4 separate regions of the Homo sapiens genome follow, and regions 1, 2 and 4 are each reported to be linked to region 3. The links are microRNA targets in miRTarBase. Many come from high-throughput screens and were not tested one by one. Region 3 holds a microRNA gene; each other region holds the end of a gene's coding sequence. Distances are between the middles of the regions.

Region 1 (8,159 bases), not on the chromosome of region 3:
TCCTGCCCCCAACCTCCAGCCACATGGGCCCTCGGTGACTCTCCCAAACCAGGCCCTGCGTTTCCTCAAGCAGCCACTGGAGGGCAGCAAAGTGCTTATGCAAAAATCCCACCCCGCCCAGGAGAGCAGCCAGGACACCTGGGACTTGGCTTCAGGTGGGCCAGGGAAGGAGGCAAGGAGCCTTTTGGAAAATGGGTGTCTGTCCCATCCTGACTCCCTCGGAAGGAAGAGTAGGGAATGGAAGAACTAAGATTCCGGGGCTTCCCCAGGTGATACCGAAGGAGCCATAGGTGTGCCCGGGAATGAGTCCCAGACTCGTGTGTGCCTCCCGGGCCCCCATCTGCAGCTTCCAGAAGAGGACTTCAGTGGGAGACCCCTCAACTCACATTCCGGACAGTCAGATTCCTGGCTGCCTCCAGCTTTACAAAATCCAGCCCACCCCTTCCTGGGCCCAGCCCCACCCAGGCCAAAAATGTGAAGGGCCTGCAGACTCCCTTCCTCCTTTACAGCTTGTGACACCTGCTCAGCTGCGGTTTCCTTAATCTTGCATTCCTGTTCCCCTGCCCTTCCTACTTCTGACGCCTCTCCTGGTGTTTCAGGATTCCTCACTGCCTGGATTGGAGATGGAACGCATAGACTTTGGCCCTGACCCTGCTGCCTACACTGTGGTACCTGCCACCCCCCCTCAGGACCCAGAGTAGGAGGCTGCGGCATCTTCTGCCCGGCTTCCCCAGCTCTGCAAAGAAGCCATTTCTCAAATGGCTGTGATGCGTGTGTGACACTGTTTATTGCCGAGGACCTGTCCCTCCTCCCCCAAGCTTTTGGCACTCAGCCCTGAATAAGCTTCTAAATCCCCAGTTTCTGCAGTAACTTATCCCAGGGAGAGGAGAACTTGGACAAGTAGATTCTAGGAAGCATGACCAAGGCTATCTGACAGTGGCAGGAGAGTGGGGTGCTGGGGCTAACCCTCTGGAACTGAGGCCAGAGATGAGGAGAGGAAACTGAGGGGCCCGGAGGAGAGGAGGTGGAGGAGGGTGGGAACCGGGTGAGAAAGTCAGTGGAGAGAAATGTTCTGGTGCCTCTCCCGCCCTATCCTGGCTATGAACTTCCATGTGGCAGATGGAAAAACTGAATTCCAGACAGCAAGAAACCCTCACCTAATAGCAGGAGCCCGCTGGCAGTGAGGCTAGGAACCAGAAACCAGAAATCTTGCCTCCCAGCTCTTGTCTGGAAGATAGAAACCTCAGAGTGCAAAATCTGGCGAGGGGTTTCAGGAAAGACGGGAGGCCGGGTGGCACTGAGGACAAGAAATCCCCAGGACATCAGGGCCTGACCACCCACCTCTCTGCGCTCTCATGTGGTCTCATTCCGGCCCCCACCCAGGCCCAGGGGCAAGCGTGATACCCTGTTTGCTTGAGGCAGCTGTGGGTCTGAACCCCAGGCCCGCCACTCGCTAGCCGTATGACCTGGGACTCATTACCGAGCCTTTCTGAGCACCTCGGCTTTTCCCTCTGCTACGGACATGAGCAGAGCGCTGTCTCTGGAGGATCACTGCGATGGATTAATTTAGACCAGCACACAGTGGGCATCTCACCCGTGCCCCCAATGCCTTTGCTGCACACACACCACCCGCCAGTTCTTGGCTCCTTTTCTCTTCAAATATCCAAGATGGAACAAAACTTCAAATGCTTCTGCAATGTTTCTTGAAAGCTGGGAGTAGGAAGGGTGGGGAGGGATGGGGCTGGGAAGGAACAGCACACCTCGTCTCCCTTCCCAAGGCAGACGGAGCTCCCAGCACAGGGGAGAGAGAAGAGGAGGAGGGCGAAGCCAAGGGAGGGTCCTGCTAGCCACTCAGAGCCTTCCTGTATCCACACAGTAACTTTCCACTGGCCTGGAGTTGGCCACTGCACATGCTGGCTGCACGCTCCCCCAGTGTGGCCTCCTGGTTCCCTCCCCACAGGCGCCCCTCTGGGGGTTGGAGGGCTGACGCACACCCTGCCTGAGATCCCAGCCGCCTGGAAGCTGATAAGGAGCCCTGGCCTCATTACATGGGACCAGCTGGAGGGACTGGCCCTGGCTGTTAGCATCAGCTGGATGGCTTCCAAATTGGAGAGATGCAGAGATAAGTGGGGGAGCACTTAGGGACTCTGGGCTGAGTGAGTGGCCAGTGAAGCTAGAAGAGATGTGGACTGTGCCAACTATGAAGACCTCAGGAGGCCTGGCTGGGGACGAGCCAGCAAACAGCAGCTGACAGGAAGGGTTTAGGAAATAAGAGGTGCAGAAGGGACTCCCACACAGCCTCGGGTTAGGGCTGAGGCAGAGCAGGGACTCCTTCCAGATGGGGCTGGCCTGGCAGCTACAGCGATTGCCTCCTCCCCCAGAACATCCAGCCGGAGGGCCCAATCACACCTCACTCAGCCTTAGGCCTGTGGCAGCTGCCTGGCGGGTGGAGAAGTGAGTGAGAGGATGTGGGTCTCGGTCCTGCAACCCCAAATGCCTCCCAGGTGGACGCGGGTCTGGGTGGATTGGCTCCCCAGCTCCCACTTCCCTGGGAGCCCCAGGGCAGGCCCTTACCAAGGAGCGGGGCCCCCTGCCCTCACCTCCTGCCCCAAAAGAGCTCTGTCATGACCCGGGAGGGCCATTCACAGCAAGCAGCAGACAGCACAGGCTTCAGACCCTCTCCTATTGCCCTTGGCCTCCAGGTCCAAATCCCTAGAACAAGCCGCTGGTCCCAGAGCCAAGAGAAGATGGGCAGACTGGGACAGCCATCCTGCCCACCCACTCCACCTGCCCAGCTGTGTCCCCTACCCCCTTTCTTACAAAGTGTCAATGCCTGACCTGGATGAGAAAGACAGGAGGACACAGACTGGATGCAGGACAGTGTGCCCTAAGGCCACATGATTGTGCAGCCCTAGGAGGAATTGCAGTGGGGCTCAGGGCTCTGCCGGGCTTCCTGGGTCTCTCTCCTGCATCTGAAATCCTGCTAGGCTTCTCCTCCTTGTCCCTTGGACCCTCAAACCCAGAGGAGCCTTCAGCCTTGACCGTCCCAGTTTGGAAGATGTAACGGGCGAATGGGGCGGCACAGGGATTGACGTGGCCTCAGTTCCTCAGGGTCCCCATGGCGTATGTACAAGCGGCAGAGGGCTGGGCTGGGCTGGGGTAGACAGTGACCTGGCCACAGGCTGGGTTGGCAGCTAGTTTTATATCTGGTCTCGCAGGAGCGCAGGGGAGGGACAGGGAACCAGGAGGGGCGCATTCTCTGGAGGACGGTGGGGCAGGGAGGGCTCCTCATTCTCGGTTAGTGCCAAAAAGCTGCAGGAAGAAGGTGAAGATATAGATGATGTCTAGGTAAATGTTGAGGGCTCCAAAAATATACTCCTCAGGGCTCAGCGAGTGGCGTCGGTTACCCATCAGCAACTGGGTGTCAAGTGCCAGGAACTGGGAGAAGTGAGGAGAGAGAGAGAGAGGTCAGAGGCCCAGGCAGTGTGACACTGACTATGGCAGCCCAGGTGTCCCCCTCAGCCCCACCCCCAATTTTATTACCCTCACCAGCTGCCTGACTACCCAGTGGCCCTCCTGTGACACCTTCTGTCCCTAATTCTATTCAGCAGCTATTTACTGAGCACCTGCTATGTGCTAGGCACAGGGATACAGCAGAGAACAAGACAGCCGGGATCCCTGTCCTCACAGAGCTTAGAGTCTAGAGGAAGTAATTGTTAGGATGATGAGTATAACAAGGTTCCAGGCAGCAGTGGGGCTGATAACAAGGAGCCTCACCTATGTGAGTGTGGCAGGAAGTTAGGGAAGGCTTCCTGGGAGAGGGGACCTTCAAGCTGAGGCCTAGTCTTCTTGCCATTCCCTCCGGACCCTGCTCTCAGAGGAAGGCAAACGCTTCAGGTACAAGCAGGGCCCGGGCACTTGTGCTGTACTGACAGCCCATCAGTGCTACCGACATCCCCATCAAATAAGAATCCGATTCTTCCTACAGGAAGCGAGGCCCAGAGACCTTAAATATTAGCTAAAGGTTACACAGCTGGAAAGTGGCAAAGCCAAGATTTCAACCTGAGCAGGCCGGCTTCGGAGCCCCAGGTGTAAACATTCTGCCCTGCTGCTAACAGCACCCGGGGTTAATGCCTTTCCTCCCAGGAAACAGGCTCTTCCCTGGGGCCCTGCTTGGCCTAATGGACTAGGAACAGATTCCCTCTGAGACAGCGCTGTGTCACCCCCCTGCCCCTGCCAGGCCTGCCCACTGTATACAGTGGCTCCTACCCTTTGCCATGTAGCTTTCCTCTGGGCTCCAAGCCTAAAGAGCAGAACCCTTAAGTAGCATATGAAATTTGGCAGGCGTGGTGCGCTTTTCTGGAGAAAGAGGCCAAAAAGTCCACCAGTATCTCAAAGGTGATGAAGCACTGATCCACGTGGGATTGGAATTTTTTTTCTTTTCTTTTCTTTTCTTTTTTTTTTTTTTGAGACAGAGTTTCGCTCTTGTTGCCCAGGTCGGAGTGCAATGGCGTGATCTCAGCTCACTGCAACCTCCACCTCCCAGGCTCAAGCGATTCTCCTGCCTCAGCCTCCCGAGGAGCTAGGATTACAGGCATGTGCCACCACACCCAGCTAATTTTGTATTTTTAGCAGAGACGGGTTTTCTCCATGTTGGTCAGGCTGGTCCTGAACTCCCAACCTCAGGTGATCTGCCCGCCTCGGCCTCTCAAAGTGCTGGGGTTACAGGCATGAGCCACCAGGCCCAGCCCGGGATTAGAATTCTTTTACATTGATTCACATTCTTGTTAACTGGGCTCTTCAGTCACTTGTGTATGAAAGGCATGTTCCCTGGGTCCTCTGAAACTCATTCATCATACAATAAATATGTATGGGGCAACAGCTGCATGACAGGGACTTGCTAAGAGCAAAAGAGACGAGAAACACAAAGCCGTGCCTGCCTTGGGGAAGCTCGCAGCGTCATGGGGGACACTTATAGGTCATTACAAGAAAACCCAGGAAATGCACAATTAGGACTATGAAGGAAGGAGCTACTAATTGGGCCAGAGGAAGGTGACCCAGGAGAGGTGGCATTTCACCTGAGGCTTAAGTAGGAGTTTGCTAGCTGGGAAGGCCTAGGGAAGCCTGGGAGGCCTGACTGGTGTTGTGTGAAGAGTGGGGAACTCGGTGAGGCAGGAACTATGGGAGAAGTGGATAGAGGAGGAAGGGATTGGGGCTTGCCCTTGCAGCTTGCACTCTGCTTGGTAGACAGGGGTCATGCCCAGTTCCCTTTCCTTCACCTCCGCCATGGACTCCTTGTCTCCCAAGACCCAGACTTTAGAGTTGCTATAGACGCAGCCCTGTAGAATCCTAGTCGAATCCCAGCCCTGGTGCAATGCTCCCCCCGGCAGGCCCAAGAGGCCAGGGCTCCAACAGGGAGCAATTCCAGCACATGGGACATTGAGGCAGGGCCACCGTCAAAGGTGAGGAGGTGGGGGCAATTATGAGCACAGGCTTGAAAGTCAGATCCACTTGGACTGCAGGCTCTGCTCTACCACTCATTAGCTGTAGGACCTGGGCAGAGCATTTAATCTCTCTAGGCCTGTGAGTCCCTATGTGTAAAAGGGAGATGAGCGTGCCTGCCTCCTGAGGTTGTTGTGAGAATGAGATAATGCATGCAAGGGGCCTGGCGTGGTGCCTGACACATAGTAAGCACTTAATGAATGCTTGCTATTATATTAATGTGGTTTCATTGTTATTATCTGCAGAAGGAGAGGTGCCCTCTTGAGGACATGCACGTGCTACTGATGAGACTCAGGTGTCTCTTGCATCTCATCAGGGAGGCAGCACTGTTCCTTGGGGAGCTGAGTGGCCTTAACACAGCGAAAATGGGGAGCCATGGCCAGGGCTGAGAGGAGCCCTGCACGGGGTGCGTCAGTCTCCTGAGCTCAGTGGCACTGAGGGAAGGGCACTCCAGACAGGAACAGGAGTTGAAATGCCTGGGTTTGAGACCCGGCTCCATTGCTCAGTAGCCAAGTCATCCACTTGACCTCAGTGTCCTCATCTACAAAGTGGGATAGTAGCAATGCCCACACCACGGTGTGGTTTTGAGGGTAGATTTATGACAGTGTATGTGGCATCCACTATTTGTATTTTTGAGTATGATTTCTCTCCATTCCGCTCTGCTCCTTCTGTGTTTGATTTGGATTCCCAAGCACATTTTCCTTCTGCAGAGAGAATGAGCAAGCAGAAGGCCCAGTGCAAATGCTTTGGGCCACTTGGCAGTCACAGCTGCCAGCATCAGTTCATAAACTGCTGATCTGGCTGTTCAATCAGTAGCTTGCTTGGTTGGTTTCCCAGAGCCTGGTCACCCCTGGGTGAGCTAATGAAATGGAGTCTCTTAACTTGGAAGGCTTGGATCTGTCCAGCTCTGGGGGTGGCCCTTCTGAGAAGCACCCACGCAGGAGACCCCCTAGAGCAGCCAGCTGGCTTTTCTCTTGGAGAGAAGAGGAATGAAATGATTTCTGCCCCAGCCCTTGGTCCATAGCCACAGATGCTTATCTATGTGGTGTTCTCTGGGATGGCCTGCTTCAAATTTCAACCCCACTGACCAGTATGACCCATCACTGCCACCTGATGCCTGTGAGTCAAACAAAGTCTTTTCATCGATTTATTCCCAACAATATTTGCTGAGCACCTACTATATTCCAGAGAACTTGCCCTCATAGAACTGACAGTCTAATGAGGGCAAAAGACATGATCAGAGATTCTGCATGGCAGTGCATTGATTTACAGGGGAAAGTCATCTGCTGCTATCTCCTTGGAGATGGAAAGCATTGTTAACTAATGTCTTGGTTGAGAGCAGGTATCTTGGTTATAGTTAACATCTTAGTGGGTAGCTAGGATCTTGGCTGAGAGCTAGCAACCGAATTGACTGCAAACCCCTAAAAGGAGGGCAGGTACTTGAGTTAGTGTTCAGCTGAACAGGAGACTCTGCAGGAGGAGCACATGGGATGGGGCAGGAGGCCCCCTGGGACAAGGACGCTATTAACTTACATCTGAAGAGTCCTTCCCCAGACCAACACTTGATCTCATCTCCCTCTCCCCATTTGCCCTGGGAGGTGGGCGTCCTCATGGTCTTACATGAGGAAAGGAGTCTGAGAGCTGAGTGACTTGCTGATGGCTGCTTATCGAGTGCCGTCTCCTATGCTGGTGGAGATAGGGGAGGAGTGGGCTTGCAGGGAGGGAGGGAGCATGTGCAGAGGGCACAGGTGCCAAAGGCAAACTTCCCCGCCTCACTTTACTGGCCAGTGCTAAACCTGGCCGGGGACCCCAGCCACACATTTGGCCTGACCCTGCCATATCTGGGGCCCAGGCTTATGTCCGTTGTCCTCCCTGAATGTGGCCCCAGAGGTGACGCTGAGGGGCTCTGGGCAGTGCATGCCATGGAAAGGCCAGCTCAGAGCCACCCGCAGGCAGGCACTGAATACAAAAAGCTGGGGTTGCAATGTGTTGTATCAGCATAAACAGTGCCACGTGGACTGTGTCTGTCCTGCATAAATGCCAGTGTGAGGGCGTGTGGAGGCAACCCCCAGGCTGTTGTTTACAGCATTGGTTCTAACAGTGAGATGCTGAAACAACCCAAACTCTACCAACACGGGGGTGGTTAAATAAACTCTGGGCAGCAGTGCTGAGGTGGAAACATCTGTGACAGACGCTACTGTGAGAAAAAAGCAAGTTGTGAAAAATCTATATCGTATGATCCCATAAAACTATACACGTCAGAGGAGCGCACATAGCAAATATCTATGAAATGCATAAAGAAAGGTCTGGAAGGAGAGATAATTCATGGTTCCTGCTGGGGAAAGCAGTGAGGGACACGATCAAAGTGACATTTGCTTTTTTCTATATTTAAGATTTTCCAAAAGTGAAATATGTGAATAAATGTATTCACATATTATATAATTAGAAGTTTAAAATAGAAGGGTTAAAATAGCACAAAAGAAGAGTTCGTGAACTCTTTCACTGAATTCTCACCATAAGCCTCTGCGGCAGGTGTCGCACTATCAGCTCCACCATTTGCTAAGGACACTGAGGCAGAGACAGTGTAAGTGACTTGCCCGCATCACCCAGCCCAGGGACAGCTAGAGGGTGAGCTTGGGCTTTGGGGAGTCTCTGGA
Region 2 (8,401 bases), 27 Mb from region 3:
CTCTGTCGCCCAGGCTGGAGTGCAATGGAGCAGTCTCAGCTCACTGTAACCTGTGCCTCCCAGGTTCAAGTGATTCTTCTGCCTCAGCCGCCTGAGTAGTAGCTGGGATTACAGGCATGCGCCACCACGCCAGGCTAATTTTTGTATTTTTGGTGGAGACAGGGTTTCACCATGTTGACTAGGTGCAGTGGCTCATGCCTGTAATCCCAGCATTTTGGGAAGCCGAGGCAGGCAGATCACCTGAGTTCAGGAGTTCGAGACCAGTCTGGCCAACATGATGAAAACCTTCCCTCCTAAAAATACAAAAATCAGCCGGGCGTGGTGGCGGGCGCCTGTAATCCCAGCTACTCGGGAGGCTGAGGCAGGAGAATTGCTTGAATCCGGGAGGCGGAGGTTGCAGTGAGCCGAGATCGCACCATGGCACTCCAGCCTGGGCGACAGAGTGAGACTCCCGTCTCAAAAAAAAAAAAAAAAAATTCTATTATATGTGTGTACCGTATTTTGTTTATTCACCTGTTGATGCACACTTGGGTGATACCTTGGTTATGGGGAAACATTAATGATAAATATGTGAAAGTCAGGTTACAAAACATGTAGTGTGATCTAACTTTTGTAAAATGACATAATGTAAAAATTCCCAAAGAATAACTAAAACATTGACAATAGTTACCTCTGGAAATTGAGGATATTTTGCTCATCTCTATTTCCTCCTTCTCTGTAATTATTATGATTTGGATTGCTTTTGTAGTAAAAATCAGTAAAAGATAAAAGCTAATGTAAATGTTAATAATTATAGATGCTCTTACAATATGTTAACTGTTTAATTGGCAGGCAGGTGTAATGCTTACCTATTGGTGGAAACCCTATGGGGCCTGAACTGACCTTGTAGTACTTTGGACCTGAGATGACTCTGGGACCAAATTATATCTGTTGCTTGTCTTTTAGGAAAGCTATTTTTGATACACCAGATGAGGATCCAAATTACAATCCACTACCTGAGGAACGGCCAGGAGGCTTCGCCTGGGGTGAGGGCCAGCGGCTTGGAGGTTAAAGCAGCAGTGCCAATAATGAGACCCAGCTGGGAAGGACTCGGTGATACCCACTGGGATCTTTTATCCTTTGTTGCAAAAGTGTGGACACTTTTGACAGCTTGGCAGATTTTAACTCCAGAAGCACTTTATGAAATGGTACACTGACTAATCCAGAAGACATTTCCAACAGTTTGCCAGTGGTTCCTCACTACACTGGTACTGAAAGTGTAATTTCTTAGAGCCAAAAAACTGGAGAAACAAATATCCTGCCACCTCTAACAAGTACATGAGTACTTGATTTTTATGGTATAAGGCAGAGCCTTTTCTTCCTCTTCTTGATAGATGAGGCCATGGTGTAAATGGAAGTTTCAGAGAGGACAAAATAAAACGGAATTCCATTTTTCTCTCACTGTATTAAAGCTTTTGTGTGTGATCTTTTAAATTCTGATAATGTATTGTAGCCCTCCTGCGTAGATCTGAGCTCAGAACAGTTTACACAGCTGTTCTTCCTGTGTCTTCACAACTTTTAACTGGATTTCATTTCAGGATTGGAAATACGTGGCTGTCATGCTGTGGTTGTGTACATCTTACTAACTCAGAATGCAAGATTCAGCAGGAAGATGATTTATTTCTGTCATCTGGATAGGTTGTTTTGCATCTGGGTTTTGCCAAACTTTGTCAGACAACATGAAAAAAAAGGAGGGAGGATGGTTCTTGTAGCAGTAGGAATTCAGCTATAGGAAAGTCAGCTGTAAGCTAATGTGGCATCTTATTTGCTTTACTTACATTTCTCCATTAAGAAGTATCCAGGGAAAGATTGGTAAGGGCCACATTTTTGTAAAACTAGGAAGATTTTCATTAGACTTTTTTTTTCTTTTATTTTTAAAAAAGTTTTAATTAAAAATTTTTTTTTAAATACAGATGGGGTCTCACTGTGTTGCCCAGGCTGGTCTTGAACTCCTGGACTCAAGCAATCCTCCCACCTCAGCCTCCCAAAGTGCTAGGATGACAGGCATGAGCCACCATGCCCAGCCATTTTTTTTTTTTTTGCCTTTTTTGTTTTGTTTTGTTTTTTGTTTTTTTAATTAAAAAAAAAAAATAGAGACAGGGTCTCAGATTTTCATTAGATTTGGAAACCAAGTTAGAATGTTGACTTTGGAGCCAGACGAACAGATACCAGTTAGCTAGGCATATGTTCTTCCAGGGTCTTTGGCTAGTTAACATTAGTCATTTGCTTCGTGAAAATTCAAGAACCTTTTCAGAGCCAAGTACCTGGATTACCTTCCCAATCAGGTAGAAATTAGACAGGGTCCACAGAAGTAGACACTTAATGCTGTGGTTCAATAAATACTTCCCCTAAATATTAAGTCTTCCCTGAGTCTCAGCAGGTTTGCATTCACACTGCTTAAGTAACTTCCAGAACCTGGAAGAGTCGAAAGAGCACCCCTAGGAAAGAGATGATTCCAAACAGCTTTCATTAACGGCATGTAGGCACAGGTCCCTTTCCCAAAAGTGGATTGTTAGTAGTAGTTCATTCAACCTTTGTTAAGGGGTAGCTTTCCAGAATGTGACATTGTCCTCAGAAAGATAGACATAGGCTTAAACATAATGGACATCCTAAATAGGAATTTTCAGATTGTTTTTGAAGTGAAAAGTGTTTTAATGTCTTTAAATGGAATTGCATAACTAATGGTATTTAAGTATTTTACATGTTGCTAATAACTTTGAATATGATTGTTGCAATTTTATGGAACCTGGGTCTATGGGACTGCTTTTTAAGCAGTTTAAAAAAGGTTTTCAAAGTTTAAAAGCCAATCTTAGCATGTATAATCCTTATGGGATTCTTAAGTTTTATCCTATCTTGTTTTTGCTCAAGAACGCTTTATCAGTGACGTTTGTTAGAATTTTGTTTTTTGTTTTTTTTTTTTAAATTGTTTTTGGGCTAGAAATGAGTTTCTCTAGTTTTATTTGTTCTCCCTGAGTTGGAGTTATGCAATGAATGGCATTTTTGTGGTAAAATACTAATCCTAAAATCTGTTAACTCACTGTTCATTTAAGTAGGGAATATCTGTATACATTAATGACTAGGTAAAACAGGAAATACATTTTGAATATACAGCCTAAAGGCAGGCAGTTACAGGGTTTTTGATTTCTCCGATTTTATAGGGTGCAAGTTCCCAGTGGCAGGATGCCCTGCTGTGTGACTGACTACACTGTGTCCTGAGCAGTGGTAATTTCAATCACCTCTCATCAGTTTGGCCAGCCCTACAACCACCATTCCTAGCCCTGTGTTGCTTGACAGGATACCTGTGCTTGAATGGACATAAGGAAAAGTCCTTACTTTCTCCCCAATTTACCTCTCAATCTTAGTTCTTCCAGAACACACTTCCCTTTCACAATGCAAATAAACTGAAAGTGAGATTTGATACATGGAATTTTGAGACCAACCAACTAACCTTACACATAATTTGAGGGATTCCTGGATTCTTCTAGTGATACTGAAAAGCACACTTGACTAAAGCATAGTGTTTTTTGTTTGTTATGGAAATACGGTATACGTTCATTTAAAAATAAATGGACATACAAATTGCATCTCCTTAGGAGATACATTTTATATACATTTCGGTGCGTTTTTTTCCAGTATGGATTTCTATTTGTTTCTCTCTTCCTCTTGTTTTTTCTGTGTCACTCTTGTATGTCCTCATATCTTTCATACCTCTTGTGTAGTCTCTAGAAGCAGAACACCTAAGTCCTGGGTCTGGATAATGAAACCCTCAGTCTCTGGGGCCTCTGAAAATAAGGAAGCATTGGAGCTATTGCCATGTTGAGTAATGGGCTTCCTAGAACTATTGTCATCTATCCTGCCAGTGTTTTATGTTGTAGCTGTTTTTCTTTGACAGGTGAGTTCCAGCTATGTTGTTAGTCATGATCCTGCCATTATTTTCTGTGTTCTGTAGGATGTCTCCAGGCTACTTAAACATATTTTATGAGTTTGCAATAAAATTGTTGAATCTTGTATGATCAAGTCACTCCTCTGCTCAGAAATCCACAGTGACTTCTTAGTAAGCCCCTACATTATATGCATACTTGTTTTTTTCTTAACTTTACTCCCACTTCTACCTAACAGGGACCTCAACTTAAGTCTCTTCAGTTCTTCAAGGCCTGGCCTTGTTCCTGATTCCTCAAAAAATCTTGACTCTAAGGCCTATTTTATTGTCTGTCTCTGAATCCCTATAAAGCTTCAAGTCTGTATGACATTCTTAACGCCAAATTATATATTGTCTTGTACTGTTCCTAGCTGGTACATGTATATTAGTCTTGTCTCCCTCATGAGAATGTAAGCTCCTTAAGGGCAGGGACCATGTCTTAATTTTTGTATCCACCACAGTGCCTAGCACAGTGCTTGGCACATGGGTGCTGAATAAATACCTTTGTTTATTGATCAGCAAAGTATTATCTGGTATTTTTAATTATAGAGGGATTAAAGTGTATGCATGCAAGCTTGAGCCTAGTTGCTGAAGCTTGTGGTTGTCTCTGAAAGTGGGATAGAGGGAAACTGAACATGATCAAGGGCAGTAATTTGGTGGTCGGAAAAGCAAAGGTGACCACCAGCTGTTATGGTCGTGATCAGACCAGTTAAGTCCACAGACCATCCCAGACAAGTTAAAAATGAAATGTGTCTGACACTTCGTCGTTTGAAGGAAGAACCAGGATATTCTCTGAATAGTTATTAGCTTGTCAGTATCTACATATGAAAGCTGGTGAACCCCAAGAGACTTCTTCAGGAGAAACAGCAGATTTCAGTCTACCAATGGGAGAAATGTGAGCAGCATGGCTTGATGCATATATAGGACTTAATTTTTCCACTCTTTGGTCCTCTTAGCTTTGAGGCTATAGAATAGCTGGATCATTAGGCCAGAGATTATGGATGAGTTACCTACAGATTTGTTACCTACCTATGTGCTTTGTTTTGACAGTACTTTTTTTTTTTTTAAGTTTAAACCTGTATTTAACATTGACAGATAAAAATCTTCACTTTTGGCTTTTCTTGAGAAAATTGGAAGATCTGGCAATAATAGGTCTACATGACAGCCATTGCCTAGAAATGATTAGGGGCTGCATGTAGAGGTGGAATGTGCTCCATCAAGAAATAAGTCCACCCATTTACATTACCTAAATTATTGTAATCATTTGGAACATCGGACTCCTACCTTAAGTTACTCTGGAAAGCACACTGGGAAAAAGGACTGGGATGTCTTTACTCAAAGTCCATAATTTGAGAGTTAACATTTATTATCCCTTGTAGTTTTGGGTTGCCTTTCTAAATATTTCAGGGTAGGAAGTGAAAATTTGTCAGTTTATTCTTAAACACAAATCTGCTGCTGGTTCAACGTGCACATTTTCAGTAATGCCTGGTCACCAAACTGTCAGCAACTAGAGGAAAATTATCTCCGACCTGGAGCAAAGGGGAGGTTTTTTGTTTTTAGACTAGCTCTCTCACGAATCACGGGAAGGGAGATATTTAACAGGGCGAGTTTCATGGAAACGAGCTTCAGAAGATACCCTTCACATGAGCTGAAGCTTACGGTGTATTCTCTGGAAATCACATTTCCTGTAAGAGCAAACAGCTACTTGGCATTCTCCGTGGTAAATTAGCAAATCATCTAAGAACTTTTAGGAGGGTAAGGAAGAACTAGTTATAATCCTACTTTTTTCTGCTGCAGTTCTGAATCTTCACTGAAGTGTCTGTGATGGGGTTGCACAGCCATGTAGAGAACTTGAGAGTCTGGCTGGAATGGTTGGGGGAAAGGAAAGATAAAAGACAATTTTAATTTCATTGAACTCCCTCCTTTCTCTGCTTGTATTACTGGAGGCGACCACATCCGTTGGAGGAGTCATTTTCTGAGTTAAATTCATGTATATCAGAATTGGTTTTCCTTTCTGTAACACAAGATGATCACAAAATTATGATTTGGGGACATCTGAATGACTAAGATGACTCAATTTCTTAATCTGTAAATTAGAGATAATCTAATAACCAGTATATACCACATAACTTATAAGTTGTTTAGAGGATTAGACAATGCACGTTTGCGCTTCTCATTGATTTTACAGAATTAAGTACTTTCCTTGAAGAGTGACTGTTATTTGGACAGAGAAGGGGAAAACGCGGGTTTACTGAAAAGAAGTAATGCTACTAGAACAAAACAATGGGCGGGGCGCGGTGGCTCACGCCTATAATCCCAGCACTTTGGGAGGCCGAGGCAGGCGGATCACCTGAGGTCGGGAGTTCAAGACCAGCCTGACCAACATGGAGAAACCCTGTCTCTACTAAAAATACAAAATTAGACGGGCCCCGGTGGCGCACGCCTGTAACCCCAGCTACTTGGGAGGCTGAGGCAGGAGAATCGCTTGAACCCAGGAGGCGGAGGTTGCAGTGTGAGCCGAGATCGCGCCATTGCACTCCAGCCTGGGCAACAAGAGCGAAACTCCATCTCAAAAAAAAAAAATAAAACAATGAGAAAAACCTCGTTAACCAAGACTACAGTCCCACGGAACCTTACATCCTGTGTTTCCCGGTTGTAGCTCCGGGCCTTTTCCTGGTTGTACCTCAGGCCCTGCTTTTCCCACCCCCAGGAAGTGAAAGCCTTCCCAAGCCCCCAAGGCATGCTGGGAGATGCAGTCCCTTTTTCTAAAGACTGGGGCGGCCGTGAGGTCATCGGTGGTCGCCGGGAGCCGCCAGCACGTGGCGGCGAGGAAGGGGCGGTGTGCTCCTGTTGTCTGCACCTGAGAGGGGGCAGGAGCTCTCGGCGCTTGCGCCTCCCGCCGCGGTGCCCTCCCGACATGCCGGAGGAGGCGGGCTTCCCGCCGGCCAAGAGATTCCGGCCAGGCTCTGGACCTCCGAGCCGCGCTGGGTCCTTCCCTCCCGGGAGGCAAGTGGTGATGCTGCTGACTGCGGGCAGCGGCGGCAGAGGAGGAGGAGGAGGCCGGAGGCAGCAGCCGCCCCTGGCCCAGCCCTCGGCCAGTCCCTACCCTGAAGCTGTGGAGCTGCAGCGCCGGAGTCTGCCCATCTTCCAAGCGCGGGGGCAACTGTTGGCCCAGCTCCGAAACCTGGACAACGCGGTCCTCATCGGTGAGTGGCCGCGCCGGCGGGCTCTTCCTTGCACTTCGTCCGTGGCTTAGCTAGAGCAGTTTTTCTTACATGCCTCTCAATCCCTTTCGTTCGTGGCTTCAACAAACCTGAATACCTTTTCTGGGCCAGACCTGGAGAGGGGCCTCGAAGAAGAGTCCGGCAGCCCTGCCCTGGAGGCGCTGGACAGCCCGGTGAGAGTGACCAACGTGTGTAGGCAAAGACTCACCTTCCGCGTAAAAGGGTAGAGAAACGTACCGGGGGCTTGCGGATCTTAGAAGAGTGGATCTGACCCGGTTTGTGAGGAGGCGGCTGGGGAGGTCGTGTGGGAGGGAGGGCATTCTAGGCAGGGGGGAAAGCCCGTTTGAGAGATGGGAACCTGAACACATTCCGGTCGAAAGGGAAGGTGTAGTTTCTGGTGCATGAAAAGAGGCAGAGTTGTGGGGCAGGGACTGATTTCATGGGGCTTATGATCCCCAACGTGTTAGAGGAGATACTGAAGGACGGAAAGGATGAGCAGCCAAAGAGAGGAAGGAGACCCATGAGTGCTGCTAGTCAAAGGAATAGAGAGTGAGCAGATGCAGCAGTCAAGTCCGGTTATACTGGACTTGGATGTGATGCCCACTGGATTTGGATGTGAGCTATTTGTAAGAGTTAAAGAAAAAGGAAAGAAACACGAAACGCGGCTGGCAGTTAAAGACAGCTTTTCTTTAGTTAAAACCTGAGAGGCGCTCCTGGCCGATTTCGGTCAGGAGCCCTTTCTCTTACAGACTAAGAGTATATATTGGTGTTAGGGTGAGGGGGCTTATCACAAGCTTGGAATGTTTATATGTGTGGAGAAGTTTTTGGCAGGGTTGGACTCTTTGGGAGCAGGGGATGTTATCTTGGGGCAGACATTTTTCCGGCCCGAGGGGGTTTATCTCCCGGCTGGCATATTCCCGGCTGGCATATTCCCGGCCAGAGTGGGGTTATCCCTTAACATGTCTCTGGTCGGGGAGGAGTTTGGAATGTTTCTGGCTGGAGATGTTATTTGTGGTTTATGGTCGTGCTGACCTTAGCCATTAGGCTGATACCTTTTGGATTTAGGCGGTTTTTTATTAAGGTGAACTTTTGAATGAGGGGCTTGTCCAAGATGGTGATGTTCCTGCTTTGTCAATCCAGACCCTATAGTTATAAAAAGGAGGAGGGACGGCATGTTCTTTCTGGCTACTTCCTGCAACGAGGGGATGGAGAGTTTCCT
Region 3 (8,401 bases):
ACCCCGTCTCTATTAAAAACACAAAAATTAGCCAGGCCTGGTGGTGCACGCCTGTGATCCCAGCTACTCAGAAGGCTGAGGCAGAAGAATCACTTGAACCTGGGAGGCAGAGGTTGCAGTGAGCCAAGATCATGCCACTGCTCTCCAGCCTGGGCAACAGAGTAAGACTCCATCTCAGGGGGGAAAAAAGAAATAGAATTTTAGATTGATATGATTGGACATCGAATTCTAGGTTGAAAAGAATTCCCCTGGCCGGGCGCGGTGGCTCACACCTGTAATCCCAGCACTTTGGAAGGCTGAGGCAGGCAGATCACAAGGTCAGGAGATTGAGACCACCCTGGCCAACATGGTGAAACCCTGTCTCTACTAAAAATATAAGAATTAGGCGGGCGTGGTGGCGCATGCCTGTAGTCCCAGCTACTCGGGAGTCTGAGGCAGCAGAATCCCCATGTTCGTCAGGCTGGTCTTGAACTCCTGACCTCGTGATCTGCCCTCTTCGGCTTCCCAAAGTGCTGGGATTACAGGCATGAGCCACCGTGCCTGGTCCGAATCAACCATTTCTCCAAGGACCTCAGGTTGCTTTTACTGGAGAATGGTATTACAAACCAAGATCTCTGGACAAAGTATGCTTGATATGGGACATTATTGCTTCTAGGCCCTCTCAGCTGATATATGTATCTATACTAACTTTAGTATATACACATATCCATAAATATTTCTCTATGTATCTATTTTAAAATAAACACGAGTTCATTCTGGTGTCTCCAGCTCTAATCCATGGCCGCATGGATCATTCTAGCCTCCTCCCCTTGCTTATCTATAAACTCACTACAACGAGAGGCACAGCATGGTGGCTCACGCTTGTTAATCTTAACACTTAGAAGCTAAGGCAGGAGGATCACTTGAGCCCAGGAGTTCAAGACCAGCCTGGACAACAAAGCGAGACCTTACCTCTACAAAAAACACAAAAATTAGCAAGGCATGGTGGCATGGCCCTGTAGTCCCTGCTACTCCGTGGGCTGAGGTGGGAGGATCCATTGAGCCCAGGAGATCAAGGCTGCAGTGTGCTACGATTGCACCACTGCACACTACCAGCCTGGGCCACCGAAACCCAGCTAATTTTTAATTTTTTCATAGAGACAGGATATTGCTTTGTTGCCCAGGCTCGCCTTAAACTTCTGGCTTCAAGTGATTCTCCCACCTCAGCCTCCCAAGGTACTGGGATTACAGGAATGGGCTAGCGCACCAGGCCTTCTTTAATTTCTAACAGCAATTTTTTTTTGTTTTTTTTTGAGACGCAGTCTCGCTCTGTTGCCAGGCTGGAGTGCAGTGGCACGATCTCGGCTCACTGCAACCTCTGCCTCCCAGGTTCAAGCGATTCTCCTGCCTCAGCCTCCCGAGTAGCTGGAACTACAGGCACACGCCACTAGGCCCAGCTAATTTTTGTATTTTTAGCAGAGACAGGGTTTCACCATGTTGGCCAGGATGGTCTCAATCTCTTGACCTCAGGTGATCCGCCTGCCTAAGCCTCCCAACTAACAGCAATATTTTATTGCTTATTGCTTTCATAGTAAAAGTGTTTTAATCTGTTTATGGTGCTGTAACAAACACCACAGACTGGGGAATTTATGAATAACAGAATTGTATTTCTTTCTTTCTTTTTTTTTTTGGAGCTGGAGTCTCACTCTGACACCAAGGCTGGAGTACAGTGGCACAATCTCAGCTCACTGCAACCTCCACCTGCCAGGTTCAAGCCTCAGCCTGGGTTCTACTGTCTCAGCCTCCTGAGTAGCTGGGATGACAGGCACCCACCACAATGCCCAGCTAATTTTTGTATTTTCAGTAGAGACAGGATTTTGCCATGTTGGCAAGGCTGGTCTCGAACTCTTGATCTCAGGTGATCAACCCACATCGGCCTCCCAAAGTGCTGGGATTACAGGCATGAGCCACCACACCTGGCCAGAATTTTATTTCTTTTCTTTCTTTTTTTTCCCCCGAGATGGAGTTTCACTCTTATTGCACAGGCTGGAGTGCAATGGCGCAATCTCGGCTCACTACAACCTCCGCCTCCTGGGTTCAAGTGATTCTCCTGCCTCAGCCTCCAGAGTAGCTGGGATTACAGGCGCCCGCCACCACACTCAGCTATTTTTTTTGTATTTTTTAGTAGAGACAGGGTTTCATCATGTTGGCCAGGCTGGTCTCGAACTCCTGACCTCAGGTGATCCACCTACCTCAGCCTCCCAAAGTGTTGGGATTACAGGGGTGAGCCACCACCACACCCACTGAATTATATTTTCTTATAGTCTGGAAATTTGGAAATCCAAGATCAAGGCACTAATACTCAGTGTCTGATGAGGGCATTCTTGCTGCATCCTCATTTGGTTGAGGCAAGAGAGAGTAGAGTTTAGTTCCTTCCAGCACTTTAATAAAATCACTAATCCCCCCCCACCCAGTTTACTCATGATTTAATCACCTGCTAAAGGTCCCAACTCTTAATGCTATCACATTGGTGATTACGTTTCAAGCAGTTGGGGGGATATTCAGCACATTGCAATACGGTTTTAAACTTTTTCATTTTTCAATTTATTTTTTCATAGAGATGGTCTCACTATGGTGCCCAGGTTGGTCTCACACTCCTGGCCTCAAGCCACCCTCTTGCCTCAGTCTCCCAAAGCACGGCAATTACAGGCTTGAGCAACTGCACCCAGCCTGAACTTTTTTTTTTTTTTTCTTTTTGAGACAGAGTCTTGCTCTGTCGCCCGGACTGGAGTGCAGCAGAGTGATCTCGGCTCACTGCAGCCTCCGCCTCCCGGGTTCAAGCGATTCTCCTGCCTCAGCCTCCGGAGTAGCTGGGATTACAGGCGTGCCCCACCACGCCTGGCTAATTTTTTTTTGGTATTTTTAGTAAAGACCGGGTTTCACCATGTTGGCCAGGCTGGTCTTCAACTCCTGATCTCAGGTGATCCACCCGCCTCAGCCTCCCACAGTGCTGGGATTACAGGTGTGAGCCACTGCGCACAGCCCAAACTGATCCTTTAAAATTCAAATTTAATTCAGCTCCACACATACTTTGTGTTTTGGGGCAAATTATTCCAGCTCTCTTAAGTCTCTTTTATCTCATCTCTATTAACAAGTTGACAATAATGGCTCCTACCCCAGAGGCTGAGACAAATAATGTTAAAACTCACTACAATGCTTGGCACACGGTAGGTGCTCCATGGATGTCTGCTATTATTTTTTGCTTTTAATAGTAACATAATTTACATTACTAGTTATTATTATATGCTAAGCTCTGTTTTAAGTGCAGCCAAGATGAAGTTTAACTGCCTTGCCCAAAGTCAGGCAGCTAAGCAGTGGCACTGGTGGACTATGAACCCAAGCACTGGACTTTTAACCACCTCTCACTTGCATGATCCTCCAGTTGCCCTCTTAGAACCACTGTGCCTTCTCAGAGACTTCAGCTGAAATCCAACTTCTGAGAATGCTTCTAGGGTTCGCCAGAACCCGCCTTTGCTAGCCTCCCTAGGATTATCTCTTGTGACCAGCACCTTCACTGACAGCTCCAGTCTTTTTTTTTTTTTTTTGAGACGGAGTCTCACTCTGTCACCCAGGCTGGAATGCAATGGCGAGATCTCGGCTCACTGCAACCTTCACCTCCCAGGTCCAAGTGATTCTCCTGCCTCATTCTCCCGAGTAGCTGAGGTTACAGGCGCCTGCCACTACGCCTGGCTAATTTTTGTATTTTTAGTAGAGACAGGGTTTCACCATGTCGGCCAGGCTGGTCTCGAACTCCTGACCTCAAGTGATCCGCCTGCCTCGGCCTTGGCCCATAGTGTTGGGATTACTGGCGTGAGCAACCGCGCCCGGCTATCAGCTCCAGTCTTACCACGATTAGTTTTTCACGTGCCCAGCCTCAAAGACTTAAACTCTTTGCTCCCTTACGGAGATACCCTTTCCTTCACCTTGCTTGCTCCCGTTGACTCCTCAAGAAACCTTTCTTATGTCGGGCGCAGCGGCTCAAGCCTGCAATCCAGCACTTTGGGAGGCCGAGGCGGGCGGATCACTTGAGCCCAGGAGTTCGAGACCAGCCTCGCTAACATGGTGAAACCCCATTCTACTAAAAATACAAAAATTAGCCGGGCTTGGTGGCGCGGGCCTGCAGTCCCAGCTACTCGGGAGGCTGAGGTAGGAGAATCGCTTGAACCCGGGAGACGGAGGTTGCAGTGAGCAGAGATCGCGCCGCTGCACTCCAGCCTGGGAGACAGAGCGAGACTTGGTCTCAGAAAAATAAAACAAAACAAAGAAAAACAAAACTTTACTTGACAACCCAACGACCACTACCACTACAGCCGCCCTAGGACTCCCGCTCTCTGAGGTCCTACAGCACTTCGCATTTCCCTCAACGCCGCACTGAGAACTCTGCATTGTGTACTCGTCTGTCACCAATCTGCGAGTTACAAAGCAGAGACTAACTTATTTGGTTTAGCATTTAATAGGCACATAATCAACATTTACTGTTCAATTGAAACAAAATTAAAATTGGGCGCTGTCTCTATCTTTATTTGTGATCGGCCCTAACTGCACTGGCAATCTTTTCCGTTTTTTTGTTTTCTGTTTTCCATTCGCATGCCCCTTAGCGTACCTGGGGCTCCGGCTCCTTTACAAATGAAACCCAAAGTGCTCCGCAAGCACAGCCAGCGAAAGCGAAAAACTCTGAAACGGACAAGATGGCTGCCACCTCTTCGCGCCTCTTAGTCCCACCCACTCAGGGCGGAGGTCTGCGTCATGTGACCCTCCCCTTCTTGGCTCCGCCTCCTACCGCAGTGCTTGACGGGAGGCGGAGCGGGGAACGAGGCCGTCGGCCATTTTGTGTCTGCTTCCTGTGGGACGTGGTGGTAGCCGTTGGGTTGGGAAAGTGAGGGATTTTTGGCCTCGTTTCTCCTGCTTCTTTTCTCCTCCCTTTTACTTTGCCGGTAGAACACAGTTATGGGTCGCAAGAAGAAGAAGCAGCTGAAGCCGTGGTGCTGGTATCCTTTGTCGGTTTGAAGTCGAGGTCGCGTTGGGGTGCCGGTTGTTGGGGCCTGGGACTAGGAGGCCTGGATTTGGCTTACGGCGTGGAGCGTTTGTATTTAGGCGTCTGCGTGGGTGGCCTGGTGGCTGGGATTGGACTTGGGAAGGCTTCTAGGAAAATGGGGTTCCGAGGTCGACAGGCTTTTGCAGTTGTGGGTCGTGTGACTCTGTGACTCAGGAGGATCTTGTTCGGTGCGAATTTTGGACTCCGGGAGGCGGCCTGGACCCCTCCGCCAGGGACAGTGTCCCCTAGGGACTATTCAGCCACCTTCCGTTGTTTTGGTGACGATTCAACAAGGGACTTTTCTTCGAGTGCGATAGGCTTATTACTTTCATGGAGGGTTGGGGACAGCTTCACAGTCTGTCACCCACTTTTTCTGTTTTTATTTACTTTATGTGTGTTTTGTGTTTATTTTTTCGAATTGGCGGTTTAGTAAAGAACCAAGTTAGTCAACCCTGGTTTCGAACCTTTTTTTTTTTTTTTTTCTTTTCGGGGCGGGAGGAGAACTAGCTTCCGTGTCTCACCCAGAGGCGCCTTAATCTTCAGGAAGCGTTCTCACAGGGCGGAGTTTCTGTTACCCAACTTTGTAGGACTAAAAAGTGCCTATCTTATTAGGAAAACTCTTACTACAGTGTGGTATTAATGCTTTTTCTGGAAGCGTTAATATTCTTTACATTAAAATTGATTTTATTTACTGTTTTGTACGTAAAGGCGGCTTGTTACAGTACTGCGTTTATGTAACAGTTTTAAAAATAGCTTAAATACGGTTACGAATTTTGTAATGTGATTTTAGGAAAATCTGAGTAGTGAGGTAAGAATTCTGTTTTATTGATGTAAGAATTCTGCTTTATTGATTTTATTGATCTGTGAATTTAAATACATTGCTTGGCAACATAAATTCATACGGAATTGGAAACAACTTTATGGATTGTTCATTCGAAATTATGTGATTATTGTTCACCATATAGTTACTCTTAGATTCTAAATATTGCTAAATTCCTAATCCAGTTATTGCTATCGTCTTCATATCTAGTGAAGTAATTGTCTTGACAGAACCTTAGGGATTTCTTAACTGAACTCTTTCCTGTCCTCAGTGTGCATTTGTAAATGTTGAAATATTTATAACAAAAGTTTCACCGACATCTCTGTTAAACACAGGAATTTGACAAAGTATATTGCTGATTATTGAGATGTGTTTTTTGGGGTGGTGAAGAGAGCTGGCCTTCTAGGAAATTGAAAATACTGAAATAACATGGCAAGTGTAGTCCCTAATTGTGTAATAAATATAAAAAGCAGAGTTTCTATACAGTACCATTTTGGTTTTAGCTGTTCCCATATTGTAATGTTATCCATATGTTTTTATTATAGGCAGTGTCATCATTAGGCTGTCTTTGTGCCTTAACAGTATTGATCAGGTATTGTAATAGAGATTTTGATGATGAGAAGATCCTTATTCAGCACCAAAAAGCAAAGCATTTTAAATGCCATATATGTCACAAGAAATTGTATACAGGACCTGGCTTAGCTATTCATTGCATGCAGGTAAGGATTTTTCTTCTGTATTTATTGTCCGCTTGTGATTTGGAAACAACTTGAAAGAATAATCTTTTTTATTTTTTTGAGTTTCGGTCTTGTCGCCCAAGCTGGAGTGCAGTGGTGCAATCTCGGCCCACTGCAACCTCTGCCTCTCGGGTTCAAGCTATTCTTCTGCCTCAGCCTCCGGAGTAGTTGGGACTACAGGCAGCCGCCACCATGCCCGGCTAATTTTTTGTATTTTTAGTAGAGACTGGGGTTTCACCATGTTGGCCAGGCTGGTCTCGAACTCCTGACCTCAGGTGATCCACCCACCTGGGCCTCCCAGAGTGCTGGGATTACAGGCGTGAGCCACCGCGCCTGGCCGAAAGAATAATCATTTATTTCTCTGACAACTGTAGTTTTGTTTTTTTTTTGTTCACTTACTTACTGCAAAAGATAAGATAGCCAATCAGCATTAAAAAAAACAAAAAATTTGTTCGATAGCCATCAAGACAATAAACAAAACTGGCTTTTTATGTTTAAAGAGGGTTTGTATTTGTATTTAGTTTGATAGTACCTTACTAGGTTAGATTGGTAACATATCGAAATCACTAAATATTTCCTGAGTACTTGGAGCAGAGAACAAGGATCAGCGATTTAGATTTTGTAGGTGGTCTGGCCTTAAGAATTAATACTTAATTAGCAGTCATTACTCACTGCCATTGAAGGATCTGTTATTATCTGTAGCTTGGGGCTAGGCTAATTTCAGCAATTTATTTATTGGACTTCTTTTGGAATGGCAGCATTGTACTTTTTGCTTTTGTTTTTAAGAGATGGCCTTGCTCTGTGGCCCAGGCTGGATTGCAGTGACATGGTTATGGCTCACTGCAGCCTCATATTCCTGGGTTCTAGCCGTCTTCCTGCCTCGTTCTCCCAAAGCCCTGGGATTATGGGCATGAGCCATTGTGCCAGCCCAGAATTGTATTTCATTTAATAATTTCTAGGTTTCGGCTGGGCGCGGTGGCTCACGCCTGTAATCCCAGCGCTTTGGGAGGCCAAGGTGGGCGGATCACAAGGTCAGGAGTTCAAGACAGCCTGACCAACATGGTGAAACCCCATCTCTACTAAAGATACAAAAATTAGCCGGGTGTGGTGGCATGGGCCTGTAATCCTGGCTACTGGGGAGGCTGAGGCAAGAGAATCATTTGAACCCTGGAGGCAGAGGTTGCAGTGAGCTGAGATGGTGCCACTGCATTCCAGCCTGGGCAACAGGGTGAGACTCTGTCTCAATAATAATAATAATGACAATAATTTCTAGGTTTTTAAAGTTCTTTTAATAAATAGCGAGAGCATTGTAATTTATATTTTTTAAGATCTAGTAAGTACCTTCATGTCTCATTCAACATTATTCTACTTTGCTTAGTCCTAGAGCTGTCTGAATTTTTGCTAAATTAGACCTTACAGAAATATGAGATGAGCAAATACCAAATCATTGGAAACTACTATGGGTGGGAGGTAGGGAGACGTGATTTCTCCAGGTTTAAAGATAAATTTATATAGATCCTTTTCACTCCAGATACTTTAACAATAATTTAATATTCATTTTAAAATGTTGACCAGATGTGGTGGCTCACGCCTGTAATCCCAGCACTTTGGGAGGCCGAGGCTGGTGGATCACCTGAGGTCAGGGTTTCAAGACCAGCCTGACCAACGTGGTGAAACCCCATCTCTACAAATACCAAAAATTAGCTGGGCATGGTGGCAGGCACATGTAGTCCTGGCTACGGGGGCGGGGGGAGGGCTGGGGGCGGGGGG
Region 4 (4,000 bases), not on the chromosome of region 3:
TCACACCACTATACTCCAGCCTAGGCAAGAGTAAGACTCCATCTCAAAAAAAAAATAAAAATAAAAATAAAATAAAAACAAAAACTAAAGTTAAAAGGTCTGGTATACTGAACTGGTAAACTAATTACAATTTTGCTTTCCAACCTCCTCAAGTATTTAAAAGACCCAACTCAGCCCATCTTAGAGGCCTTGGACAAGGACAGCTCACCAAAGGATGACGTCTGGGACTCTGTGTCCATTATCTCGTTTCCGGAAAAGGAGCAAGAAGATGTTCTCCAAACGCTTTGAACCAAAGCATGGGCCTAGCCCACTGGCTCCCTGGAAGAGATCAAGCCATCGGAGCTGCTAGAGTTCTGTCTGGACTTTCCAGAGACCAGTATTCCCTTTTGCTGCCTCTAAAAGGCCTGTCCCTGCAGACATGAGAGACAGCAGGTCTCATGGGGGTGACAAGCTTTTTTTTTTTTTCTTAAAGAATTTTCAAAATCAAATTCCAGAATGATTTTACGGAGATATCCCAGGAAAATTAAGGCTTCTCTTAAACACTAAAAAGGCATGTAATTGCTTGTTAGCAAAATGGATATGACACATCTCTGATACTTTTTTCATTATTGGTTGGGCTGAGCAGTCAGAAGACCTGGTCGTCGTCTTGACTTTGGCAAATGAGCCGGAGCCCCTTGGGCAGGTCACACAACCTGTCCCAGCGAGGGACACCGAGTGGCCCTTCATGTACATCCATGGTGTGCTGGCTTAAAATGTAATTAATCTTGTAAATATACTCCTAGTAATTTAAGATTTTGTTTTTAAACTGGAAATAAAAGATTGTATAGTGCATGTTTTTTAAAGTCTATGTGAAGTGTTTTCTTTATTGTAGCCTATTTTCTGCAGAGTTTCAGCTTTCTAAAATTACTCAATCTAAACTTGTTTTTTCTTAAATAACACCTGCTAGAGCTACTGAGGCCTCATGGGAACTCAGCAAACACTTCCTATGGATGTCACTTGATCCTCCAAAGGTTATAAAGAAGGCCAGGGCCTAGTGCAGTGGCCCACGCCTATAATCCCAGCACTTTGGGAGGCTGAGGTGGGTGGATCACTTGAGGCCAGGAGTTCTAGACCCACCTGGGCAACATGGTGAAACCCTGTCTCTATGAAAAATGCAAAAATTATCCAGGCATGATGACATGCACCTGTAGTCCCAGCTACTTGAGAGGCTAAAGTGGGAGGATGCTTTAGCCTGGGAGGCGGAGGTTACCATGAGCCGAAATGATGCCACTGCACTCCAGCGTGGGAGGCAGAGCGAGACCCTATCTCAAAAAAAAAAAAAAAAAGAGGGCTGGGCATGGTGGCTCATGCCTGTAATCCCAGCACTTTGGGAGGTCAAGATGGGAGGATCGCTTGAGGCCAGGAGTTTGAGAACAGCCTGGGCAACATAGTGAGACCTTGTTTTCACAAAAAATAAAAAATTAGCTAGTCGTGGTGGTGCACACCCGTAGTCCCAGCTACTCAGGAGGCTGAGACCAGAGGATCATTTGAGCCTAGGAGTTAGGAGTTCAAGGCTGCAGTGAGCAATGATTACACCACTACATTCCAGCCTTGGCAACAGAGCAAGAGACCCTGTCTCAAAAATATAAAAGTTATAAGGGGGATTTGCAGAAGGCACATTAGCACTTCATTTATATGTGACAAGTCACACTGTGTTGACCAAGGCAGGGATTTGTGGGCAATAAAGAGAATTAACTGATTAATCAATAGTAATGTTATCTACTGAGCACGCAAGTCATCTGATTGTGTCAGTACTGTCGGGCTCTGTTGTTCAAAGGATATGTATTTAAAATCCATTTATAGGCTGGGCACGGTGGCTCACACCTGTAATCCCAGCACTTTGGGAGGCCGAGGCAGGCAGATCACCTGAGGTCAGGAGTTCGAGACCAGCCTGGCCAACATGGTGAAAGCCTGTCTCCACTAAAAGCACAAAAATTAGCTGAGTGTGGTGGCAGGCACCTATAATCCCAGCTACATGGGAGGCAGTTGGGGCCCTGTACTGCTGGTAAGAAAGTGGCTTTTTTTTTTTCTTTTGAGACAGAGTCTCACTCTGTCGCCCAGGCTGGAGCGCAGTGGCGCGATCTCAGCTCGCTGCAACCTCCACCTCCCAGGTTCAAGCAATTCTCCTGCCTCAGCCTCCCGAATAGCTGGGATTACAGGCGTGCACCACTATGCCTGGCTAATTTTTGTATTTTTAGTAGAGATGGGGTTTCACCATGTTGGCCAGGCTGGTCTCGAACTCCTGACCTCATGATCCACCCACCTTGGTCTCCCAAAGGGTTGAGATCACAGGCGTGAGCCACCGTGTCCGGCAAAAGTGGCTAACTCTCTTAAGTGTTGTGTACCATGCTGTCTGCAGTGGCAAGAGTTAGAAAAACAAGGCCCACTCCCACCCCATGCACACAAGTCTCCCTGTGAAGCATCTGTTGTATGCATTAGGTGCACCTTAAGTAGACAAGTTTGGAGGAAGAAGTTGTAGATAGGAGTTGTAAAGACTTACCTTAGACCGTTCAGGAAATCGGAGACAGAAGAGCTTCTTCTGTTGGGCAGCAGGATGGTGGCCAGCGAGGAGTGGAGGATACATCTATAGCAGGAGAACAGGAAAGAGTTTCAGCCCAGCAGGACAGAGGGCAAATCAACTCTGTTAGGGTAAGTGCATCTGTGCCACCCCATTTATTTATTTAGAGACACAGTCTCACCCTGTTGCCCAGGCTGGAGCGCAGTGGCACAATCTCACTTCACTGCAACCTCTGCCTTCCGGGTTCAAGCGATTTTTGTGCCTCAGCCTCCAGAGTAGCTGGGATTACAGATGTGCGCCACCACACCCAGCTAATTTTTGTATTTTTAGTAGAGATGGGGTTTCACTATGTTGGTCAGGCTGGTCTCAAACTCCTGACCTCAGGTGATCCGCTCACCTCAGCCTCCCAAAGTGCTGGGATTACAGGTGTGAGCCACTGTGCCCAGCCTTAAATAGTATTTTCTGAAATGAAATGCCTCATTCTCCTTAGTAAAATAAATGACTAATTGATGGGATTAGTATTTACACTGTCAAGGCCAGGCGCAGTGGCTCACACCTGTAATCCGAGCACTTTGAGACCCTGAGGTGGGTGGATCATGAGGTCAGGAGTTTGAGACAAGCCTGGTCAACATGGCGAAAACCTGTTTCTATTAAAAATACAAAAATTAGCTGGGCGTGGTGGCTCACACCTGTAATCCCAGCTACTTGGGAAGCTGAGGCAGGAGAATCACTTGAGCCCGAGAAGCGGAGGTTGCAGTGAGCTGACATGGCACCTCTGCACTCCAGCCTGGGCAACAGAGCAAGACTCTGTCTCAAGAAAAATAAAGTCAAGCTAAGTACATTGTCAAAATTTTTGAGTTGGAAGCACTCTTATAAATAATCCGTTGACAGGGCATAATCCATAACCTACTTGCCAAATCAGCCCATTCCCTGTTTTTGTAAAACCCGTGTGCTAAGAATAGCTTTTACATCTTGGAATAGTTAAAGTCAAAAGAAGAATATTTCATCACACATGAAAATTCTATGATATTCAAATTTCACTGTTCATAAATATTTATTAGAACCCAGAAGGTAAGCTGCGTGTAGTGGTTCACACCTGTAATCCCAGCACTTTGGGAGGCTGAGGTGGGCGGATCATTTGAGGCCAGGAGTTTGAGACCAGCCTGACCAACATGGTGAAACACCGTCTCTACTAAAAATACAAAAATTAGCTGGGCATGGTGGTGCATGCCTGTAATCCCAGCTACTCAGGAGGCTGAGCGAAGGGAATTGCTTGAACCTGGGATGCAGAGGTTGCAGTGAGCAGAGATCGTGCCACTGCATGCCTGGTGACAGAGCGAGACTCTGTCTCAAAAATAATAATAAAATAGGCCGGGTGCGGGGGCTCACGCTTGTAATCCCAGAACTTTGGGAGGCTGAGGCAGGAGGGATCATGAGGTCAGG

The links. Region 3 holds the annotated microRNA hsa-miR-632 (GUGUCUGCUUCCUGUGGGA, at 4,870-4,888, shown strand). A microRNA usually pairs through its seed, bases 2 to 8, with sites in the 3' UTR of a target mRNA and lowers its output. Matches are read on the target gene's strand: a 7mer-m8 pairs with bases 2 to 8, a 7mer-A1 pairs with bases 2 to 7 and ends in A, and an 8mer does both.
Region 1: the mRNA of FAIM2 is a reported target of hsa-miR-632. Seed matches in the 3' UTR shown: 7mer-A1 at 1,224-1,230.
Region 2: the mRNA of DERL2 is a reported target of hsa-miR-632. Seed matches in the 3' UTR shown: 7mer-A1 at 1,711-1,717.
Region 4: miRTarBase lists IFNGR2 as a target of hsa-miR-632. Seed matches in the 3' UTR shown: 7mer-m8 at 413-419.

What each region holds. Positions count from the first base shown.
Region 1 is chr12:49,867,216-49,875,374 of GRCh38, forward strand. It overlaps FAIM2 (Fas apoptotic inhibitory molecule 2), which reads right to left. Exons shown (of 12, transcript NM_012306.4): 12 at 1-3,438. The coding sequence ends at 3,289. Among named protein-coding and RNA genes, the nearest start is that of BCDIN3D, 28 kb to the left of the region's middle.
Region 2 is chr17:5,467,334-5,475,734 of GRCh38, reverse strand. It overlaps DERL2 (derlin 2), which reads left to right. Exons shown (of 7, transcript NM_016041.5): 7 at 946-4,481. The coding sequence ends at 1,051. DHX33 (DEAH-box helicase 33) reads left to right here and starts at 6,753. Exons shown (of 12, transcript NM_020162.4): 1 at 6,753-7,164. The coding sequence starts at 6,876. It overlaps DHX33-DT (DHX33 divergent transcript), which reads right to left and starts at 6,643. Exons shown (of 3, transcript NR_135644.1): 1 at 6,596-6,643; 2 at 5,741-5,821; 3 at 5,375-5,643. RefSeq lists enhancers at 6,660-6,729, 7,110-7,329, 7,119-7,701.
Region 3 is chr17:32,345,300-32,353,700 of GRCh38, forward strand. MIR632 (microRNA 632) reads left to right here and starts at 4,810; the gene lies at 4,810-4,903. It overlaps ZNF207 (zinc finger protein 207), which reads left to right and starts at 4,858. Exons shown (of 12, transcript NM_001098507.2): 1 at 4,858-5,027; 2 at 6,487-6,613. The coding sequence starts at 4,987. It also overlaps a transcript of C17orf75 not described here. RefSeq lists a silencer at 1,118-1,299 and enhancers at 4,308-4,427, 4,598-4,947, 7,115-7,624.
Region 4 is chr21:33,436,675-33,440,674 of GRCh38, forward strand. IFNGR2 (interferon gamma receptor 2) reads left to right here. Exons shown (of 7, transcript NM_005534.4): 7 at 154-842. The coding sequence ends at 288. It also overlaps a transcript of TMEM50B not described here. Among named protein-coding and RNA genes, the nearest start is that of IFNGR2, 35 kb to the left of the region's middle.